Linked DNA regions of Homo sapiens: regions 2 and 3 are each linked to region 1. Evidence: fine-mapped expression QTL. A gene starts in region 1. Each other region holds a variant in brackets. All regions are shown on one strand. Distances are between the middles of the regions.

Region 1 (8,185 bases):
TACATCTCCTACAACGTGGATGCATTTTAAAAGTTTAGTCTTGAGCCAAACCAAAAAGTATGAATCCAAATATGAAGATCAAAAATAGGCAAAGCTAAGCTATATTGTTTAGGGATGATATTTAGATTCAGTCAAACTATAGGGAAAAGCAAGGAAGTGATCACCATAGAAGTCAGACTTGTGGTTCTTTGTGGGAGAGGAAGAGGCTGTGGTCAGGAAGGGACATGAGAGAGGCTTCTGGGGTTCTCTTTCTCAGCCTGGATGGTAGTAATGTGGGAAATTAAATCTAATACTTTGCTAACCCAGACATTGTTCTTTCAGTGTGTTGTATTTTGCAATAAACAAAATACAACACACTGAAAAGAGACTTTCCATTTTCTCCTTAAGCACACTTTAAGGGGAAAACAAAGGTGGTCTAGGAAGATGTTTAAAGACATATGATACAGCTTTTCTTCCTTACTCACAAGCTAAAAAGCTGCACTTTGGCCAAACAAGATGAGGGGGTCGAAGCATCAGCTGTGGCCAGCGTGCCGTGAGAATCCCACCTGTGAAGCAGCCAGCAGATTCTGAGCCCCTCAAGAGGGCAGGTGGGATCAAGGTTCAGCTAGAAGCCCCAACTTTCCCCTGGCTCTTCTGGGCAGAGTGAGTGATGCCAGAGAGCCCAACTTCTCGGAATGCCTGGGCTGTGCTGCTAGGAATCAGAACAAGTCCTTGGGAAAGGCAGCCAAGATCTGGATTCTGCCATTCTGGTTCCACTCCCTCCTATGACCGTGACCTGCTGTGGAGCAGCAGAAGTTCCCCTCCTTGTTCAGCTCCTCCATTACAGGTGCTGGTTCCAAACGTCTCTGGACTCAGGATACTGGGTCAGAGGCTGGGGCTGGGGAGGAGCAGTTGGATGCCTGGATCCCAAGAAGGAGGTTTTTTGAGGCTAGGGTCTCTGGCTAGGGAGAACCATACCTGACATTGCCACTGTGCCATAGCTGCCTAGGGCCGGGCAGGCTTCCTCCTGGGATGGGGTGGGGTGAGGAAGGGGATAGACGATCGTCCTGACTGGGTCAGCTCTAATACGTTCTTTGCTTTCCTGCCCCTACAGCTCTGGATTCTTCACAACCTCATTCAATAGTAGTCAGTGTTTTTCAGGTATCCAAACTTTCTGAGGCTCAGTTTCCTCATGACAACAACATATATCGTTTCTTGAGCATCAAAGATGGGTCAGGCAGTGTGTTTGGGACTTCCTATACCATGCCTTTAATCCTTGCAGAAAGTTGACACATACCCATTACATGGCTTCAAAGGCTGATGGACAATCTCCATTTTAAAAGCAGGAAACAGACTTAGCAAGCCCAGTGCACAGTCACCAAGTGCAGAGCCAGGACTTCATTCCTGACTTCATTCCTTCATTCCAAAGCCAAGCTGCCTATGTCCCCATCTGTGAAGTGGGGCCAGCTGAGGAGCAGGGTTCAGGAGCAGACTTTGTGGAGACTGGCACGTGGCTGATGGATAGTAGGTGCTCCCATCCCAGAGGTGTGGCAAGTGCCAGGTAAGCCTGAGCACTAAGAAGAACCACACTGAAGTTGGGCTGAGACTATTTCCTGCCCTGCCTTCCTTTGTGAAAATAAAGCCAAGCAAAGAGGAAGATGAAAGAATCCACCCTAGCCTTCCTGAGCCCATTTCTCATTCCCAGGGGTTTTGAACCCCAATCCACTGCCCCCATTCCCAACCCACAGTGGTCCTCAAGGCTCTCCAGCACAGGTCCGTCACCCACCCTGCCTCCTCTCAGGAAACCCAGCTCCCTCCAAAGCGCCCTCTGGGCCTGGGATGCCCTGAGCAATGCAAGCTTTCTTGCCTGCTTTCACGTGGTTCAATTTTCCTTTTTTTTTGGCTCAATTTTTTTCTGCCTCAAGTTTTCTACCTCAAGTATTTCAAAAATTAATTTTTTTTTCTTTTCTTTTTTTTTTTTTTTTTTGTGGAGTGGGTGTTGAAAGAATCCTAAACTTTCTTAGCCATTCTCTGGACTGAGCTATAAACTCACAAAGCAAGGATTGCAGGCTCTGTGAGGCTGTGATTGCCAGAGGCAAGGCAAGAGAAATAACAAGCCGTGGTCAGTCCTCAGCTGGGGCCTCTGATGGATTTCCTCCTGTCTTGCACTCATAATTTCTTTCTGAAGACCATGTTTTCCACCCACACAAACCTGAGCCTGAGTATCCTCACAATGGTTATAACAACATATATCAAAATTGAACACTAAATTTGTGCCAGGAATTTATTAATGGAGAAACCCCGCCTCTACTAAAAATACAAAATTAGCCGGGCGGTGGTACATGCCTATAATCCCAGCTACTTGGGAGGCTGAGGCAGGAGAATCACTTGAACCCAGGAGGCAGAGGTTGCAGTGAGCCGAGACTGTGCCATTGCACTCCAGCTTAGGCAACAAGAGCAAAACTCCGTCTCAAAAAACAAAACACAAACAAGAAAGAAAACCCAAAAAACAAAAAACAAACAAAAACCCATAGATGGTACAAAAAGTGGAAGAAAAAGGAAAAAAAAACCCATGAAACTATCTGCAATGCAGTTTCCTAGAATCAACCACAGTAATCTTTTAGCTTTTCTCTATCTAAATGTTATACATATTTTATATTTATATTAAGTGCATTTATATTTATATTAAAATACAGATACAAATTTAAAAACTCTTTATTATTAAATTTTCAAATAAAAAGCAACTTTTCAAATAAAAGCAGCGAGAACCTCCTTATACCCAACACCTGGCTTCAACTATTAGCAACCCATGGTCAATATTTCCTCTATTTCCCACTTAATGTCTCTACTGAATTATTTAATTTCACCCATAAACACTTGTGTGCATCTCTAAAAGTTAAGGACTCTTTTTTGAAAAAGACTTTAATACAATTTCTCATCTCAAAAAATTAGCAATAATTCCTCAACAGCATCCAGATGCAATTTTTCATGCTTTTTTCAGTTAGTTTAAAATCATGAGCTTTTCTCCATGTCTCTAAAATGTAATTACTAATGCTTCTAATACTATTCCACCAGGTTGAGTGTATTATAAATGATCTGATCACCCCTTGCCTCCCACTCTTCCATCCCCTTGGACATATTTAGGCTACAACATCCCCAGGAAAATGGTTTCCATTGTCTGCACGTAAGCAAACAGGCATTATTAACCTATTAGCTGTCCACTGCTCCACCCCACCCACAGGTACCCAACTAGTCCTGTGCACCTACCTGGCGTGGACTGCCAAGGGAACCTCTGGATCTGCCAGTCAGCCACCCTGTCCTGCTCAGACTTTACCAGAGACGAGTATTTCCCTTTCCTTCCCTCTAAGAGCATTTTATTTGCAGAGTTAGCCAATAGTATCTTGTTTCCTGTAAGGGAGACTATCTTTAGATGCTGCCACAGGCAAGCTCAGATACTCCAGGGTGGAGGCCAGCTGCCAACAGGAGGGCCTGACTTTATAAACCTGGAAGATCTAAACCTCAGGGAAGACTGCGGAGCTGGAGGGAGAGAGGTGCCACTTACCCCAACCTGGAGGTGGGGGGCAGGGAGCAGGCCCTGCAGTCAGCAAAGCACAGCACAGTCAGCTCTCATTAATGGGGAGCCTTCAGGAAGCTGGGAGAGCTCATGGGGCCCTCAGCTTCCCTGCCCACGAGAGGGAGCCCAGAGTACTCACTGGACCACACTGGGGCACACACAGCTCTTCTCCTCAAAGTGCAGTCCCAGGCACTGGGAGCTTATTAAAGACAGCACCTCAAGCCCTGCCCTATATCTGCTGAATTAGAATCTGCATTTTAATGAAATTCTTAGAAGAGTGATATGCATACTAAGTTTGAGAAGCTTTGGTACTGAAGGCATCTAGTGAGTACCTTGCACCTTGTAGATGCTCGGTAAATATTTTTTTCCTCACCTCTCTGCCCCAAGGCATTTAGTGGCTCCCTATACCCATCAGTCAAGGCTGAGGACACAGCTTTCACCCAGGACCTGGCCTATGCTCCTTTCACAGTCTCTCCCCCTGCCACTCTTGCCCTGCAGTGGGGAGCCTGGTGGGCTCCGGCATCCAGCCATGCTTCTGCTCCCTGGCCTGGCCAGCTTGGGGCGACTGCAACGTGAATCTCAACTGCCACTGCCTCATCACCTTCCGATCACTTCATTACCTGCCTGACCCCTGGCATATGCTATATAATTCTGATCCATCCCTAACTAGGGCCTGGCCCATGGTGGCCTTCAATACACCTTCATTAAATGGTCTGTGACCCCTTCAAGGCCCCTCTGGCCCCTTGCTGCCCACATCCCAGCCACATCCGGTGCTCCCTTACCTCTAGTCGCTGTGGTGTTCCGAGGACAGCGGGTGCTCTGTGTGCTCCCCACCTTGCCCCTCCTCACCTCCCCCAACCCCAGGACAGAGCTGGGGGCTGCAGTGCAGTGCTGCGGGCTTGGTGGCCTGCTCATGGTGGAAGAAGTCCACCAGCAGTTTTCTTTCTTTGTTCTTGGTCTCAGTGTTTGGCCACCTTTCCCTGCCTTTGGCCAGAAGGCCACAGGACAAAAGCAGAGTCAGGCCGCTCCCCATCCACTTTCTGACACTGGCCCCTCCCCACCCCACACCACCCCTTGATACCTCTCCTGGGGTCCACTCAGCTGGGCTGGCTGCCTCAGCCCCTTCCTTGCCTCTGACTCCCCTCCTCTTCTGAGGGCTCCTTTCTTGGATCTGGCCAAGACTCTCCCTCTCTTCCTGTCCCACACTCTTGACGACAGTCTCATCCACCCCACATCAGTAATCCCCTCCGTGTTCATGAGCACACATCTCTACCTCCATCCAGGGCCTGGATAATTTCCCAAGCCCATCTAACCTTCTCCGTTCTCTGTCTTTCCTCTCACCACTTACCCCACTGGCCATTCTCCACCCAGAAGCCAGAGAGCTCTTCCTGAAATCCAAGTCTGCCAACTTAAACGCCTCCAGGGGTTCTCTCATCCTGGTTTAAGTCCACGGCCTGGTAAGCACGGCCCGCCCCTTCTCACTTCCTACTGTGCTCTCACCACTTCCACTTCCCCCAACATGCCTGTGCCCGTGGCAGGCTCTCTTCCCTTCCCAACTCACCTGGCTGTCCTGTCCAGGACGTGATTTTACCCTCTTTTAAAGCTAACGGCTATGTTCCACAGCTGCTAGCAGCACAGGGCTTCATGCTTGGCAAGCATGAGAACCAGCGTCCAGTGTCAGTTGCCTTGCCCCCAAGCCCCACAGAGTGATGCCATGGCTTGGATAGATACCTGTGAATGTGTGAGGGATGGGGAGGTTATAGGAAGGGAACTCTGACCTTGGGTAACGTGCCATTTTATAGCAAGCAGTAAGCAAGTCGGTTATTTGGCCCTGAGCGAGATGTCAGCTCATCCTTCAAGGTTGCTCACTGCAAACTCAACCCTGCAAGATGGACCAAGTGAAGAGCATTAGTGCTTTGCATTCTTGACACACTCATGGAGACAGAAAGAGCCTTGGCAGCCTTCCCCCTCCCTCCACGCCTCCTTGGGCCTCTGTAAAGGAGTCTCTGGCTCAGCGCTGGGAATTCTCTCCTCCCTGAACTCTTGTTCAACCCCTCCCCCGTACTCTCACTCTGGTACAGCCTTATTCCTTAGATCCCCGTCTTCATCTCTCTTTCTGCCCAGCCCCTTTGGCTTCACTCTCTGTTGGAGCTGACCCTTGTTCACAAGTTCTTTGTCATTCTGCATTTCTCTTCCAGTTGAGACAGTAAATGCAGAGGACAGTTTGGTTTCTGCTGGGCAGAGAAATGAGAGTGTGGTGGGCTGGCTCAAAGGCAGGAGGCCAGACAGAGAGGCTGTGAGGATGGTGGGGACACCCTGGACAGTGATGGGTGTCCCCACCCATCACTGCAGGCACCCATCACACAATGCAGGCAAGGACTGGAGACTTGGTGTGAATAAAGCTTTGTGGGAATGTGGGGTAGAGATGCAGAAAAGGAGAGTGAGAATGTGATTCACCTTAATTGCCAAACCAAGATACTTCCATGTTCTTCTGTGGGCCCTGGAGAAATTTGGGAATAATTACATAAGCAGTTGTGCAGCACTAGGTCTGCCTGAGGCAATGTCCTAAGTCCTCGATGTACATGAACTCATGTAGTGCCCCCAGTGACCCTATGATGCAGGTGCTAATGTTTTTGTTTTTGTTTCTTTCAGACAGGGTCTGGCTCTGTTATCCAGGCTGGAGTGCAGCCACATGATCATAGCTCACTGCATCCTTGATCTCCTGGGCTCGAACGATCCTCTCACCTCAGCCTCCCAAGTAGCTGGAACTACAGGCACACATCACCACACCCAGCTAATTTTTGTATTTTTTGTAGAGACAGAGTTTCGCCATGTACCCAGGCTGCTCTTGAACTCCTGAGTTTGAGTGATCCTTCTGCCGCAGCCTCCCAAAGTGCTGGGATTACACGTTTAAGCCACTGTGTGTGGCCGCAGGTACTATTATTATCCTCATCTTATATGTGAGGAGTTTGAGACAAGGAGGAGAAGTTATGTAACTTGTACAAGACCACACAGCTCATGTGTGGTAGGGCCAATATTTGAACTTAGCATTGAGGTTTTATGGTCTATGCTGTGCATTCTTAGTAGAGGTGGTATTACTTCCAAGGTGGCGAAAATTGGTTCTGGAAGGTTCTTGTGCTTTATGTATAAAACACAGATATACATATAGTAGCTAAACCAATAGCATATCTGTGGAATAAAATTCCATGGTAGGGGGAGGTGAGTAAGAATGTAATGTGGGCCAGGCATGGTGGCTCACGCCTGTAATTCCAGCACTTTGGGAGGCCAACGTGGGTGGATCACGAGATCAGGGGTTCAAGACCAGCCTGGCCAAAATGGTGAAACCCTGTCTCTACTAAAAATATAAAAATTAGCCAGGCGTGGTGGCGGGTGCCTGTAATCCCAACTACTTGGGAGGCTGAGGCAGGAGAATCGCTTGAAACCGGAAGGTGGAGGTTGCAGTGAGCCGAGATAGCGCCACTGCACTCCAGCCTGGGCGAAAGAGCGAGACTCCATCTCAAAAAAAAAAAAAAATTATATATATATATATATATATATATATATATATATATATATATATAATGTGGTTAATAGGCACAAAAAATACTTAGAATAAATAAGACCTAGTATTTACAAGCACAACAGGGGCACTATAGTAAAAAAAATTTAATTTACCTTTACAAATAACTAAAAGAGTATGATTGGATTGTGTGTAACACAAAGGATAAATGCTTGAGGTGATGCATACCCCATTTCCTCTGATGTGATTATCACACGTTACATGCCTGTATCAAAGCATTTCATGTAACCTACAAACATATACACACGCTATGTACCCCGCCACACACAAAAGAATATAATATCTAAAAGGACTTGTTGGGGAGTGATTAAAAAAAGCTGAGAAACCATTGTCTAAGTTTTTTTTTTTTGTTTGTTTGTTTTTAGACAGGATTTACTCCCATCACCCAGGCAGAAGTGCTGAGGTCCGCCTCCTGGGTTCAAGCTATTCTTCCACCTCAGCTTCCCGAGTAGCTGGGATTACAGGAGCCTGCTACCACATCTGGCTAATTTTTGTATTTTTAGTGGAGATGGGGTTTCACCACGTTGGCCAGGCTGGTCACGAACTCCTGACCTCAAGTGATCTGCCCACCTTGGCCTCCCAAAATGCTGGGATTACAGGCGTGAGCCACTGCGCCCAGACAAGAAACCCTTGTCTAAGGTCTTAATCAGACCACTCTGCTACCTCCCAGTTTAAAGTCTGGGGATTAGAGGGTGACATGACAAAAGTAGTCTCTTCAGAAAAATCAATCAATGGGTGGGTGTGAGGGAAACGGCTGCATAAAAGGGAAGGAAAAGACGTACATCAAGGACTTCTCCATGCCAGGCCCTGTGCGAGGCACATTGTCCATTATATCTCTTTTTTACTTTCACTTTCTAGTCAGGTATTATTTTTTCCATTTTCAGATGATGAAATGGGGAGAAAAGAGCAATGAGTCCTAGGCCACACAGCTGAAAAAGGGTCAAGTCAGGATTGGAACTTCCTGCCCAGATGCAGGCAGGGAACAGCAAGAGGGGAGCCAAAGCAGTGGGTGGTGGAAGACGGAGAAGGGATCTCGCTACAGGAAAATGCAT
Region 2 (8,185 bases), 240 kb before region 1:
TTATCCAATGATAGATGACATGGAAAATGGTCAGATGGCAGTCTCAGCTCCAAATCAAAGAAATCATTGTTTAGCCCTTGCTGGAGGAACTCCTTTCTTTAGAAACAAACCTCTAAAACCACCGAAGCCCAGAATTTCAGAGAATGGAAGTCTAAAAAATTGTTTTAAGTGGGTCATTAGGTATAATATCCCTTTGTTTCTGAATCTATTTATTTTGCCTATGGCAGTGTGATGGTTTTAAAATACATCCACAAACACACAATGAACCCTCTCCTGCAGACTCCCTGGGACCTAAGCTGTCACGGCATGGTACCATTTTGGGAAAGAAGCCACTGCTGAAGTACATCCTGCCCCAGGATCCAATGGCCCTATGTCTCCAATATCCCTGGGGCCCTGCGGTCATTCCACCATGCCCATACAGAAGACTGAGTGCCAGTATCCCAGCCAGACCTAGCAGTAGAGCCATGACTCTAGCACTAAAGCCCACATAGCACTCTGTGCTCCAGGAAGCAGGTAGTCCAGCACAGTAAGGAGGTCACCCTCAGGAGTGAGGAAGCCAATGTGCCTGGCCAGCCACCTGGTACCCACCGCTGCCAGCAACCCTATCCCCTCCAGTGATGAGGCTGCCTTATGCATGGGCACCCCTAGAGACCAAAGATCAGCCCACCTAGAGGCTGTCACCACTGGAGACCCTGCCCCCTCCAGTGGCAGAGCTACCATGTACCTGAAACAGTTCCCAGGGACCAAGGACCTGCCCACTTAGCACCCACTGCTGCCAGCAACCCTGCCCCATCCAGTGATGGAGATATAGCATGTGTACATGTCCGCCAAGGGCTGAGGACTGGTCTACCTAGCACACACCACCTCTGCTAACCCCACCCCCTCTAGAGGTAGAGACATCACGTGCTGTGTTCCTCAGGGCTGGTGCCCACCTGGTGCCCACCACAGCTGGCAATGGCATCCTATAATCAGTAAAGCTGTTGTTCCAGGCAAGCACCCTCCCATAATCCAAGAACTGGCCACCAATGGACACTTACCACCAGCAAAACTACACTATAGCCTCCATAAATGTCAACAGTCTATGCCACTGTGGCACTCAAATACTGCTCATGCTGTTAAAAATCACACAGAGACTACATAACTGTTATTGCTTCTCAGCCTTTTGTCTAAGATCGAGTGTGGAGATTATACTACTGCACCCACTCAGAACCAAAGCCAAAGCACCTTATGCAATCAACACTACAGGTCACAACTACAGGAAAAAAGTCTTTCCCAATGAAAGCTACTCCATGAAATTGGAAGAGGTGACTATTTTACCAGATGCACAGAAATCAACATAGGAACACAAGAAACATAAGAAAACAAGGAAACACGACACTGCCAAAGGAACACAATAATTCTCCAGTAACACATTCCCCAAAATGAAAGCTATCAGATGCCTAAAAAGGAATTGAAACTAATGAGCCTAAGGAACCTCAGCAAGATACAGGATAAATACAGACATACAAATGAAATCAGGAAAACATTAATGCTCTGAATGAGAAATTCAACAAAGAAACATATATTATTTTTTTAAAAGAACCAAACAGAAATCTTGAAGCTAAAAGATTCTGCTAATGAAATAAAAAATACAATAGAGAGCTTCAATAACAGACTAGATCAAGAAGAAAATAATTTCTGAAGGCCGGGCATGGTGGCTCACGCCTGTAATCCCAGCACTTTGGGAGGCCGAGGTGGGCGGATCATGAGGTCAGGAGATCGAGACCATCCTGACTAACACGGTGAAACCCCATCTCTACTAAAAATACAAAAAAAAAATTAGCCAGGCATGGTGGCGGGTGCCTGTAGTCCCAGCTACTCGGGAGGCTGAGGCAGGAGAATGGTGTGAACCCGGGAGGAGAAGCTTGCAGTGAGCTGAGATAGCGCCACTGCACTCCGGCCTGGGCGAAAGAGCAAGACTCTGTCTCAAAAAAGAAAAACAAAAGGAAAATAATTTCTGAACTTGGAGACAGGTCTTTTGAAATAACCCAGTCAGACTAAAAAAAGAAAAAAGAATTCAAAAAGAATAAAGAAAGCCTACAGTACTTACAGGACATCATTAAGCAAACAAATATTCACATTCTGAATGTTTAAGAAGGAAATGAGATGAAAAAGGAATAGAAAACCTATTTGATGAAATAATCACTGAAACCCTTCTAAGACTTTGGAGACATATGGACATTGACATCCAGGAAGCTAAAAAATCTTCAAATATAGTCAACCCAAAAAAGTCCTCTCTGAAGCACATTATAATCAAATTGTCAAAAGTCAAAGACAAAGAGAGAATTTTTAAAACAGCAAGAAAAAAATGTCAAGTCACATATATGAAAATCCCCATTAGACTAACAGCATTTTTCTCAGCAGAAACCTTACAGGCCGGGAGAGAATGGGATGATATATTCAAAGTGCTGTAAGAAAAAAACTGCCAAGCAAGAATATCAAACCCAATAAAACTGCCCTTCAGAAATGAGGAAGAAATAAAATTTTCCCCAAACTAAAACTGAGGAAATTCATCACCCTAGACCATCCTTACAAGAAATACTTAAGGGAGTCCTACATCTGGAAGCAAAAGGATGATAACCACCATCATGAAAACACAAAAGTACAAAACTAACTGATTGAAAAGATACACAAATGAGAAAGAAAAATAAACTTTATCACTGCAAAGATAAATTAGAGAAAGAAAAGAACAAAGAATTTCAAAACAACTAGAAAACAATTAACAATATGACAGAAAAAATATCATATTTCAATAATAACCTTGAATGTAAATGGATTAAATTTCCCAATTAAACAATATAGACTGGCTGAATGGATTAAAAAAACAAGACCCAGGCCGGCACAGTGGCTCATGCCTGTAATCCCAGCACTTTGGGAGGCTGAGGCAGGAGGATCACTTAAAGTCAGGAGTTTGAGACAAGCCTGGCCAACATGGTGAAACCCTGTCCCCACCAAAAATATAAAAATTATCTGGGCGTGGTGGTAGGCGCCTGTAGTCCCAGGTACTCAGGAGGCCAAGGCAGGAATATCGCTTGAACCCAGCAGGTAGAGGCTGCAGTGAGCCAAGATTGTGCCACTGCACTCCAGCCTGAGAGACAGAGCAAGACTCCATCTCCAAAAAAACCCAAACAAACCAAGAGCCTATTCTGCCTATAAGAAACTCACTTCACTTGTAAAGACACACATAGACTGAAAGTGAAAAAATATAAAAAAGAAATCCCAATGAAATTTCTACAAGAAAAACATTGGGAAAACACTCCAGGACATTAATCTGGGCAAAAATTTCTTGAGTAATACCTCACAAGCACAAGCAACCAAAGCAAAAATGAACAAATGGGATCACATCAAGATTCCGCACAGCAAAGGAAAAAATCATCAAGGTGAAGAGACAACACACAGAATGGGAGAAAATATTAGCAAACTATCCACCTAATAAGAAGTTAATAACCAGAACATATAAGGAGCTTAAACACTTCTATAGGGAAAAAAAATCTAATAATCTGATCAAGAAATGAGCAAAAGGTCCAGGTGCAGTGGCTCACGCCTGTAATCCCAGCACTTTGGGAGGCCGAGACAGGAGGATCACCTGAAGTCAGGAGTTCGACACCAGCCTGGCCAACATGGAGAAACCCTGTCTCTACTAAAAATACAAAATTATTCAGGCTTGGTGGCGCATACCTGTAATCCCAACTACTCGGGAGGCTGAGGCAGGAGAATCACTTGAACCCAGAAGGCAGAGTTCGCAGTGAGCCGAGATCATGCCATTGCACTCTAGCCTGGGCAACAAGAGCGAAACTCCATCTCAAAAAAAAAAAAAAAAAAAAAAGAAAAAGAAAAAAGAAATGAGCAAAAGATCTGACTAGACATTTCTCAAAACAAGACGTACAAATGGCAAACAGGCATGTGAAAAAGTGCTCAACATCATTAATTATCAGAGAAATGCAAATCAAAACTACAATGAGATATTATCTCACCCCAGTTAAAATGGCTTTTATCCAAAAGTCAGACAATAACAAATGTTGGCGAGGATGTGGAGAAAGGAGAACCCTCGTATACTGTTGGTAAGAAGGCACATTTGTACAACCATTATGAAGAATCATTTAGCAGTCTCAAAAAACTAAAAATAGGGCTACCATACGATCCAGCAATCCCATTGCTGGGTATACACCCAAAAGAAATGAAATCAGTATATCAAAGAGACATTTGCACTCCCATGTTTGTTGCAGCGCTGTTCACAATAGCCAAGATTTGGAAGCAACCTAAGTGTCCATCAACAGATGAATGGATAAAGAAAATGTGATACTTATACACAATGAAGTACTATACAGCCAAAAAAAAAAAAAAAAACCCAGAATCCTGTCATTTGCAACAACATAGGTGGAACTGGAGGTCATTATATTAAGCGAAATAAGCCAGGCACAGAAAGCAAACATCACATGTTCCCACTTATTTGTGGGATCTAAAAATCAAAGCAACTGAACTCATGGATACAGAGAATAGAAGAATGGTTACCAGAAACTGGGAAGGGTAGTTGGGGGTGGGTGGTGGGGAGGTGGAGATGGCTGATGAGTACAAAAAAAATTAGAAAGAATAAATAAGACAGTATTTCATAGCACAACAGGGGGACTACAGTCAATAATACTTTAATTGTACATTTAAAAATAATTTAAAAAGTATAATTACATTGCTTGTAATAAAAAGGATAAATGCAAAAAAAGAAGGATAAATGCTTGAGGAGATGGATACCCAATTTTCCATGATGTGATTACCATGCATTGCCTGCCTGTCCCAAAAGATCTCATATATCCCATAAATGAATACACCTACTATGTACCCACGAAAGTTAAAGATAAAAATAATTTTTTAAATGCCAAATGTAAACGCAAACAGAAACCAAAAACAAGCAAGAGTTTTTTACTTTAAGTCAAAGACTGTAAAAAGAGAAAAAGAATGTCATTATATAATAATAAAGGGATCAATTCAGTAAAAGGGTGTAACAATTTTAAATATATATACACCCAGATATATAAAGCAAATATCATTAGATCTAAAGGGAAGACAGACTCCAATACAATTAAGTTGGGGATTTCAA[T/C]ACCTTTGACCAGATAATGTAGACAGAAAATCAACCAAGAAACATCAGATTTAAACGGCAATATAGACCAAATGGACCTAACAGACATTTACAGAACATTTTTTCTAACAGCTGCAGAATACACATTCTTTTCATCAGCTTATAGAACATCCTCCAAGATAGACCATATGTTAGCCCTCAAAACAAGTCTCAACACATTTTTTAAAATCAAAACCATATCAAGTATCTTTTCTGACTACAATGAAATAAAACTAGAAATCAATAATAACAGAAACTTCGAAACTGTGCAAATACATATAAATTAAATAACATGCTCCTGAATGATAAATATGTCAATGAAGAAATTAAGAAGGACATTTAAAAATTAATTGAAACAAATGAAAACAGAAACACAACATACCAAAACCAATGGGACACATCAAAAGCATTACTAAGAGGAATGTTTATAACAATAAATGCCTACATCAAAAAAAGCAGAAAGATTACAAATAAACAAACTAATGATGCACGTCAAGGAACTACAAAAACAAGAACCAACGAAACTCAAAATTAGCATAAGGAAAGAAATAATAAAGATTAGAGCAGAAATAATGAAATCGAGACAAAAAATACAAATCAACAAAACAAAAAGTTTTTTGAAAAGATAATATCCACAAACCACTAGCTAGAGTAATTTTAAAAAAAGAGAGCAACAACCCAAATAAATAAAATCAGAAATGAAAAAAAACAACTGTTACCACAGGAATACAAAAGATCATTAGAGACTATTATGAACAACTATATGCCAACAAGATGAAAAGCCTAGAGGAAATGAATTCCTGGACACACGCAACCTACCAAAATTGGATCGGGAAGAAATAGAAAACCTGAACAAATCAATAACAAGTAATGAGATTGTGGGAGAAATAAAAAGTCTCCCAACAAAGAAAAGCCTAGGACCATGGCTTCAATGCTGAGTTGCACCAGGCATTTAAATAACTAACACCAATTCCTCTCAAATTATTCCAAAAAATTGAAGGGGAGGGAATTCTTCCAAACTCATTCTACAACCCCAACACTACCCTAATGCCAAAACCAGGCAAAAACACAACAAAAAAAGAAAGCTACAGGTCAATATCCCTGATGAACATAGATATAAAAATTCTCAACAAAATATTAGCAAACCAGATCCAACAACACATCAAAAGGATTACACATGATGATCAAGTAGATTTATTTCAGGGATGCAAGGATGATTCAACATATGCAAATCAATAAACAAAAGATACATCACATCAGCAGAATCAAGGACAAAAACCAAACGATCATCTTAATCAATGCAGAAAAGGCATTCGATAAAATTCAACATCCTTTCATGATAAAAACTCTCAACAAAGGAAGTATAAAAAGAACATACCTCAACACAATAAAGGCCATATATGACAAACCCACAGCTAGTATCATCTTAAACAGGAGAAAATTGAAAACTCTTCCTCTAAAAACTGGAACAAGACAAAGATACCCACTTTCACCACTCTTATTCAACATAGTATGGAGAATGCTAGCTAGAGCATTTAGGCAAGATTAAAGAATAAAGGGCATCTAAGCTGGAAAGGAAGTGTCAAATTGTCACTGTTTGCAGATGATATGATCTTATATATAGAAAACTTAAAGACTTCATCAAAAAATTCTCAGAACTGATAAAGAAATTCATAAAGTTGTAGGATATAAAATCAATATACAAAACAGTAGCGGCCAGGCACAGTGTCTCACTCCTGTAATCCCAACACTTTGGGGGGCCTAAGCAGGAGGAACACTTGAGGCCAAGAGTTCAAGATCAGCCTGGCCAACAGGGCAAAACCCTGTCTGTACTAAAAATACAAAAATTAGCTGGGCGTGGTGGCACGGGCCTGTAATCTCAGCTACTCAGGAAGCTGGGGCATGAGAATCACTTGAATCTGGGAGGTGGAGGTTGCAGTGAGCCGAGATCAGGCCACTGCACTCCAGCCTGGGCAACAGAGTGAGACTCTGTCTCAAAAAGAAAGGACAGAAGCAAGGAAGGAAGGAAGGGAGGGAGGAAGGGAGGGAGGGAGGGAGGGAGGGAATGAAGGAAATTATAAAACTCTGATGAAATAAATTGAAGAGGACATACACAAAAATGGAAAGACATCCATGTTCATATACTGAATTAATATTGTTAAAATGACCAAACTACCCAAAGTGATCTACAGATTAAATGGAATCCCTATCAAAATACCAATGACATTCTTCATAGAAATAGAAAAAATAATCCTAAAATTCATATGGAACTACAAACGACCCCAAATAGCCAAAGCAATCCTGAGCAAAAAGAACAAAATTGGAGGCATCACACTAACCTCAAAATATACCATACAAAGCTACACTAAACAAAACAGCATAGTACTGGCATTAAAAAAGACACATCAACCAATGGAACAGAATAGAGAACCCAGAAATAAATCCATGTATTTATAGCCAACTAATGGTTTTTTTGAAACAGGGTCTTGCTCTGTCACCCAGACTGAAGTGCAATGATGTGATCTCTGCTCACTGCAGCCTCAACCTCCTAGGCTCAAGCAATCCTCCCACTTTAGCCTCTTGAGTAGCTAGGACTACAGGCATGCACCACCATGCCCGGTTAATTTTTGTATTTTTTGATAAAGACTGGTTTTGCCACGTTGCCCTGTTTGGTCTTGAATTCCTGGGCTCAAGCGATCCACACACCTCAGCCTCCCAGAGTGCTGGGATTATAGGTGTGAGCCATTGCACACAGCCCCCCACCCCCCACCCCCACCCCCATCCCCCCACCCCCACCCCCACCCCCTTTTTTTTTTTTAAGACTGGGTCTTGCTATGTTTCCCAGGCTGGAGTGCAGTGACTATTCACAATTGTAGTATACTGCAGGCCTCAAACTCCTGGGCTTAAGCAATCCTCATATATCAGCCTTCCAAGTAGCTGGGACTACAGGCATGTACCACCATGCCTGGCAATTAACTGATTTTTAACAAAGGCCCTATAACATATTGGGAAAAGAACAGCCTGTTCAATAAATGG
Region 3 (8,185 bases), 29 kb before region 1:
CATATATGGGATATTCTACAAGATAGTGTGGCCTGGATTTATCAAAAATATAAATGTCTTAAAGAGAAAAAAGACACAGACCTACCTAACTCTTCATAGACAAAGTTTGCCTCACTTCTGCCTTAAAGATGACTAAAGAGACATGACGATCAATTGTCAATGCAATGTTGAATCTTGATTGGATCCTAGATTTTTTAAAAAGCTATAGGGGAAAATTTGGGTATCATTGGATTGTACATTAAGTGATATTACTGAATCAATGTTACATTTCTTGGGTGTGATAATAATATTGTGGTTATGTGGCAGGAGTCATTATCCTTAGGACACATATGCTAATGTAATTAGGAGTAATATATCTGTCACTTACTCTCTGATAGTTTAGTCAAAGAAAAATCTCTTTCTGTCTCTTTTTCTTACTCTTTCTTTCTCCTCTCACACAGAGAGATCAAACACAGGTGGCAGAATGGTAAAGTTGCAGAATCCAGATAAAGGTTATATGGTGTTTGTTGTAGTGCTCATTTAACTTCTTAGCTTTACCATTTTTAAAATAAAAAGTTGGGGAAAACGGTAAAAGAAACTTTCTTAATTTTAATTCTTAATCTAGTTAAATATTCCAGCAGTCAGTTTTCAGCCTCTTTAAAGTGGTTTGTTTAATTTTTTCCAAATGTGAAAGTCGATCTTTCTATTCCCATAGATAGAACAATAGTTCTTGTTCGAGAGGGAGAGAGCTGGGTGCTTTCAGCCTATGTGAGGCGTCGGCAACACCAAGCAGGCTGAAAGGGAAGGCTGCCATGATGTAAAAACACTCAGTAATACCCAGTGAAGATGAATTCTCTACCTTTCAGTTCCTAATTTTTAGTTTTGAATCTCAAGGAACGGACATTTCCAAATTAAAAACAGCTTCGTGGGCCGGGCGCAGTGGCTCACGCCTGTAATCCTAGCACTTTTGGAGGCCAAGACGGGCGGATCACGAGGTCAGGAGACCCAGACCATCCTGGCTAATACGGTGAAACCCTGTCTCTACTAAAAATACAAAAAAATTAGCCGGGCGTGGTGGTGGGCACCTGTAGTCCCAGCTACTCGGGAGGCTGAGGCAGGAGAATGGCGTGAACCCTGGAGGCGGAGCTTGCAGTGAGCCGAGATCGCGCCACTGCACTCCAGCCTGGGCCACAGAGTGAGACTCCCTCTCAAAAAAAAAAAAAAGAAAGAAAAGAAAGACAAAAACAAAAAACAAAAAACAGCTTCATGGAAAGAGTGTGGCTGGGTAGTAATGTGGTACTATGTTCAAATCCCAGCCTGGGCCACTTTCTACTGCTAGGACATACGTAACAATGATCACCCTCACCACTACCACAAACAGTGTGCGTGGAATTTGTGCCATGTGCCAGGTCCAGGTCTAAGAAGTTCTCAAATACTAATTCATTTAATTCTTACACTGTGAAGTTAGCCGTTATTATCACTCTCATTCTACAGAGGAAGAAACTGAGACCAAAAAGTGTGAAGAGCTTGCCCAATGTCTCACAGCTGGTGGGTGGAATGACTGGGATTTAAACCAGGCAGTGTCCTTGGGAGCTCCCACCTGTCACCACTGCACCATAGGCTCTTTCAGATGGACGTGGGCTGACTTTCCAGAACTGGAATCTTGTAACTTGGGCCTACTATTAAATTTCTGTCTGGATTCATCAGGCACCCAACTTAGCCATCATGGCCATGCCATCAGATGTGGCTTTTAAGGATAAGAGTTATGGTAAAGGCAACTGGCTGGTGGTTGGGTTTTGAGAAGAGGCCAGTCCATGGACATATTGATCTTTAATGCCCTCAAGCAAAGCATGTACATAGTTTACCAAGAGTGGTTACCCTTATGATTGGACCATTGCAGATGTGGTATCTGTAAGGGCAACTTTTGAAGGAATCAATCCCAGTCCACAAAATGAGAGATGCTTTATAAGGGATGAAATAAAGTTTCATTGAATTTAGTTCTGGGTGGCAGGTAGGTCTGCTAGCAAGTTCCGAAAGACCAGCCGTTTTCTTTGAGTTATATGCGCCTGAAACTCCTCCTCGTAAACATCTGAGGCTCACTCACACCTCAGTGATGAACTGCCACCCTCCTCCACTGAGAGCAGGAAGAGAGCACCCAGAGTGGATACCATGACAGCTCAGCCAAACAGGCTCTCTGCCAGGAGGGCTGAGGCAGGAACCCGTCACATAGACACTCTCCAGGAATGAACTCAGGAAAGATCATGCACTTGACTTGGTCAACCTGAAGTCATACCCTAAAACCTCTTTGTTAGCCTCTTGCAGGTAACAGCCACCACAATGGTGTGACCCGAATGATGCTGTGACTAATTTCTCAGACTTTCAGGACTGCCCTGTGGCTGGGTACCTATCACCAAAAGCCATAAAGGGCTGCAGACAACATTGCTAAGATTACTTTAGCACAATGCCTGTATTCAGCAGACACACACAGATGGTAGTTCCTTTCTTTGAGTCAGTTTGTGCTGGGATGCTGACATTTCCCCAGACGATGCCACCCTTTTGGGTGTGCATAATTTCCTAGACTGTCTCATCCTGGGCCATGTTCCTTGAATTAGAAATAGAAGGGAGGGGGTCAGGTCATCCTTCAGGGTGCACAGCTCCTCTCGTGTCCCATCAAGGGTAGCAGTGTCCCTGCTGGAATAGCCCCTCTTAGTCCTCTCCTCTTAGAGCCTCGGAAACTTAATTTCAGAATAAGACATGGCTTCTTCTATTCATTTTTAGAAAGGTGCTATTTGGATTTTGCACATAGCTGTGAAAGTAAAAACAGGATTTATAATGCTGGAGATTGAGGAAGAGTTTTGCAACTCAAACCTCAAAGGAGAAGTATTGGCTTCCTCAGCTTCCCCCTGACAAGGGAGATTAATGTCATTCCACTATGCTAGTGACTAGCCAGCAGAGGGAATTAAAATAGATCTTTGTTGTGCCGGGCAGGAGGAACAAATGTTGGAAGCTCCTAGAGCTGCTCTCTTCTCAGCTCTCTTCTCTGCTCTCTTCTCTCTTTAGGAGCTGACAGGTGAAGGCTGGATGCTGATTAGCAAGGGCTTCCTAGCCTCCTGTGGGAAGTAAGCCAGGGTGGAAGCTCAGGCACAGGTCCTCTAAGTAGGGGGGATGGCTGTGGTTCTGAGGGAGACTCCTGCTTGGCCCACACTTCCTGAAGGTTCAGTGTGGGGAAGCAGAGGCATATGGAGGCATCAGCCTCGGGCCTTCCCTCACTCACATTTAGGGCTGCACACGGTGCCCCACCCCACCCATCACCCACCCCCCCTGCCCAATGCCATTTCTCCCCTCCGCCTACCCCTCTGTGGCCTTTCCCCTTCCTGGAAGGGGACTGTGGCTGGAGGGCAGATCTGAGAGGAGACCTAAAAAGAAAGAAAATAGGAAGAAAACGAGGGGGAAAATAATAAAAACAGGAGGCTTATTGAAGGAGGGAGGAGCAGGGGAGAGTGGGAGCATGGGGAGCAGACAGTTTGTTCCAGCAGGCTGGATGTTGGGAGGAATATGATGGGGGCTCAAAATAAATAAGACTAGCTCTATTCTCAACACTTCTATCAGAATTAGGCAAATCCTTAAATTCTGTGACAGCCCAATGGCAGATGTGAGAAGGTGCCCTCAGAGCTCCTCAGAGCTCCGACTGTCAGAAGAACTTGACCGTTGTGCCCTGAAGTTGCTTCCCATCGAGGGACTCAGCATGGCAGTTCCAATCCTGGGAGACATCACCTGAGCTCCATGACATCCCAGTGGCCTTGCCAAAACTTTCCTTCCATCTCTTCCACACAGGGAACAGACCTGTGTTGTGGTCTGGAGGCTTCTCAGCCTCTCACAGCCTCCCTTTTTCCCTCACAGGTGTTCTCCCTAACACATCTCTCATACGTCCAATTCCTTCCCATCTTAGCACCTGCTTCTTGGAGGAGCCAAAACAGCAGAAACCCCAACACTGGGCACCATTGCTATGTTTATTTTACAGATGGGAAAATCAGGGCACAGAGACATTAAATGAATTGCCTCAAGTTTTGTAGTCAGTACATATATGGTGGAGCTAGGAGTTGAAACCACCTGCTTAAGTCTCATGCTACTCTTATTACCATTTTTCACATGGAGAAGCTGAGACAAGTTCAGAAATAAATGCACTGTCCCTTGGCTATTGTGGCTCAAATGCCCCAGGATACTAACGGGGCCCAATGAACACCAAGCCTCCGTCATCTTGAGTCTCCAGTCTCCCCTGAGTAAGGACAGCATCTCTCTATACCTTTCTGGAGTGAGAGGGCAGCTCACAGGTGTTCAGGGCCAAGTCCATGCCCTCCAATGGCATCCTACACATCTGCCAGGCATCGGGCGTCTCCTGCCTGCTATCACATCTCTTCCTGGCTCCCAGCAGGACTGTCTATGGTACACTCCAGTGACTGCAGACTTCCTGAGACTCCAAAACCACCATAGCCTTGCTGGCTTTCACGCAGTTCCAGGGAGTTCTCAGAGGTTCTGGGGCAGGTTTGGGGCCAGATACCTCCTGCTTCTTTTTCTCCACACTTTTCACATCACTGGTCCCAGATACCTTTGCACAGAAGTGGCTTCCTTAGCTACATGCCAGTTACCCCCAAGAAGACTACATTCTGCTAACCAGGGGACAGCTGCCTGGATTTAGGAGGGCTCAGATGAAACACTCTGCACAGCTGGGAAGTGCTGGACCGAGATTGAAGCCTGGGTCTGCCTCCATGTATAACAGCCCTGCTCTTCTGCTCCTCTGCTATAAGCAGAGGAGGAAAAACCTGGAAGAGAGGGAAATCATAGGAGTTAGGACACAAAGTCATGAATGGAGGTGGGGACAGTGATGCTCTTTGACGAGGAGAGATAAGGAGACTGGAGAGAGGGGGCATCTCTGCAGATGTCAGGCTCCCCTCATGAATGGTCCTGAGGGTGGCC[A/G]TGGGCCAGGAGGGCATTTGACTTGTCTGGCTGTGTGAGGGTTGTTTGGGGAAGGTTCTCTCTGAGACTTGGGGGCTTTGCCCACATGTCAGCAGGACCTTTCCAAGTCCCCAGGATCACTGCTCTTTCAAGCAGTCACCAACCTTCTTAGCTTGGTCTCACCCACCCAGTGACTTGTGGCTTCTCCCAATAGCTTACTGAGTTCTCATGGGGCTTCCTTCTTATTCTTAATACTTCCACATCGTTAAGCCCAACTGCCATACCCTCCATGAAACTTGGCCCTTCTCTTGGTCCTAGGAAGGTGTGTGCATGTGCGTGTGCATGTATGTGTGTGTGTGTGCGCACACACAGACCTACGGGCTCTTCCAGCCAGCCCCATGGACTGCTGGCCAGCCCCCAGCACAGGAGGACTGATGGGCCACAATGGCGATGGAGGGGTGAAGGCCTCCAGCCAGTGCTGACAGTCTTTTAAGGAGGTGACAAGACAGAAAGGAGCTCCAGCAAAGGTGATCCCATTTCCTCTCATGCTGTGGCCTTGGACCTGGAAGGCCTGGGGAGGAGTGGCTGGGAGGATGCATGGTGAGAAGCTGGGGCAGGAGACTCAGGTGTGCAGGCGGTCACCAGGCAGTGCTGGGGAGACCGGCCTTGGTGCTGGCAGTGGAGCTAGTGGCGATAGTAGCGTGCAGAGTGAGGGCAGGGAGAGGCTATTGACAGAGGGTCTGGTTGAAGGACAACAGGGAGGGGGTGACTCTGAGGGTTGACTGTGTGAAGTGGAGGATGAAGAGGACTTGGGGGCTACTTTTGCCTGCTGCTTCCTGTGCCTCTGTGATTACTTCTTTCTCCCCCCGCCCCCAGTTAGCATAGCGCATCTGTGGGATTCTTCCAGTCTTGCCTGGTCTCTAAGGCTCCAACCACAGCACCTGCATTATCTAATTCTTCCACCTGAAACCTTCCTCTTTGACCTCCAGAGGCTCTGCCATGCCCTGTGGCACACTGGCCCTCTCTTTTATCGCTTCTTTCCAAATTCATCCACATCTATCTGACACCTAGTCTTTACCATGCCCTGTGAAGCAGGACAAGTCACAAAGAATTTTAACTTATTTTTTTCTGGTTCTACCTTTTAAAGATCTAAATTTCTTAGGCAATGCTAAAGAGGAGGCTTTCCCCTTTCCTCTCCTTCTAGACGATAAACAGATTTCCTGGGCAGGAGGAGGCAGGGGGTGGGCAGGGCAGCTACGAATGTATAGACTCAGGTGTCACAGAGAGCGAGGCCCTTCTCTGCCTCTTGGGCAAAGCCCTGCAGTTGCTGCAGCACCCATGATCATCTGTAGGATCCAGCGGCAACAGGCCTGTGCTCTGCTCCCTGGGCAGAGTCCTGGGAAGGAGCAGACCCCAGAGAGAGAAGAGGTCTAGGCAGATGGCCATAACCAGCGTTTTGGAGAGGCCCACGATGTGGTGTGGCATGGGTGCAGCAGAGTGACTCCGGCCTGCAGCGTGGCATGGGAAAGTGGGCACAGTAGTTGGACCTGAGGGCCAAGCCAGACAGGAAGAGGGGCCAGACCACCTATGTGGCTCGATGGCTGTGGTATAGGTGGGAAGGTGGATGTCTGGTGAACACCTGCGTGGCAGCAGGGGATTCAGGGAAGGGTAGTTACCAGCTTATTGCAGGGAGCTGCAAGGAGCAGAAAACCCAATAGAAGGTGGTATGAACAAGTGGGAGGCTTTGTGACTCTTGTGCTAGGAAGTCCTGCATGGGCAGCCCAAAGTGGTTGCAGCACCATGACACTGTCTCCTGGCACCCAGGCACTTGAGGCGTGTTTTCTTTACCATTTGCTATGGTTTGAATGCGTCTACTCCAAAATCCAGGTGTTGTCAATGTGATGGTATTAAGAGGCGGGGGTCTTTAAGAGGTAATTATGCCATGAGGGCTCCTCCTTTGTAAATGGGATTAAGTCTCTTATGAGGCTTCATGCAGCGTTTGGCTAGCTTGGTGGCTTGTCTTTCTGTCATCTGCCATGTGAGGACATGGTAAGAAGGCCCTCATCAGACCAAATGCTCATGCCTTGTCTTGGAATTCTCAGCCTCCAGAACTGTGAGAAATAAATTTTTGTTCTTTTTATTTATTTTTTTATTTTATTATTATTAGTATTATTATTATTTTGAGACAGAGTCTCGCTCTGTCGCCCAGGCTGGAGTGCAGTGGCACAATCTCGGCTCACTGCAAGCTTCGCCTCCCGGGTTCATGCCATTCTCCTGCCTCAACCTCCCAAGTAGCTGGGACTACAGGTGCCCACCACCACGCCCGGCTAATTTTTTGTATTTTTAGTAGAGACGGGGTTTCACTGTGTTAGCCAGGATGGTCTCGATCTCCTGACCTTGTGATCCGCCTGCCTCAGCCTCCCAAAGTGTTGGGATTATAGGCATGAGCCACAGCGCCCTGCCAAATTTTTGTTCTTTTTAAATATCCCACTCTATGGTATTCTGTTATAGCAGCACAAATGGTCTAAGAAACTATTCTTTTATTAGGAAAAAAATAGCAAATTGTGGTTTTAGATTTAAGAGATAAATTTAATTCATGCAAATGATTCATCCTATAAAGATGAGTCATAAATACCAAAGAAGTGCATCCTTTTTTAGACATGTTTAAATATAGTCCACAAATACCAGTGCACTGCTAACTATAGCTACTCCTACAACTTCAAGTTATCTCCTACTCAGCCAAATGTCAAAATTTTACCAGTGAAAACTTAATCACTATTTTTCTTGCTGCATTAATTTCACCCCAACAAGCCTTTAGTACTTTAGTAATATTTTGTGCCATCTGAATAGCAGCAGCTGAATTTACCCAGCACATGCCACTAAAGCCAGAAGCCATGTATTTTGAAGGGCCCACTCAGGTTCATCACAGAGCAGAATGACACCTCTTGCCTCCTCAACTCTGCATCCTTCATATTCTGCTTCTGTGCAAAACTGTGTTGACGAAAAAGTACATATAACTTTAGGTCCTGCTTCAGCCCCAAGATAGGTTTAAATCTGCGTATGCTGCTTAGGCATTCCTGGGGATACCTGTGTGCATGAGGCCTCAGGCTACAAATCTTCATCTCATTCTTCTCCTGAAGAGGGAAGAGAAGTGAGGAGTCCATGGGAAGGTTTCTAGACACTAGAGTTAAGGCCACCATGCTGTTTCATGCACAAAAGATGGGAGACAAAGGCTGGAGGAGCATGAGCTCAC

What was found.
Region 2: its variant is fine-mapped to the expression of CX3CR1 in whole blood (INTERVAL, PIP above 0.99).
Region 3: its variant is fine-mapped to the expression of CX3CR1 in whole blood (TOPMed, PIP above 0.99).

Annotation. Positions count from the first base shown.
Region 1 is chr3:39,276,708-39,284,892 of GRCh38, forward strand. CX3CR1 (C-X3-C motif chemokine receptor 1) reads right to left here and starts at 3,329. Exons shown (of 2, transcript NM_001337.4): 1 at 3,247-3,329.
Region 2 is chr3:39,039,115-39,047,299 of GRCh38, forward strand. All of the region lies in intron 1 of SCN11A (sodium voltage-gated channel alpha subunit 11), which reads right to left. Among named protein-coding and RNA genes, the nearest start is that of SCN11A, 8.7 kb to the right of the region's middle. The variant T/C (reference allele first, on the strand shown) is at 5,132.
Region 3 is chr3:39,247,400-39,255,584 of GRCh38, forward strand. All of the region lies in intron 2 of LOC102724104 (a long non-coding RNA gene), which reads left to right. Among named protein-coding and RNA genes, the nearest start is that of CX3CR1, 29 kb to the right of the region's middle. The variant A/G (reference allele first, on the strand shown) is at 4,954.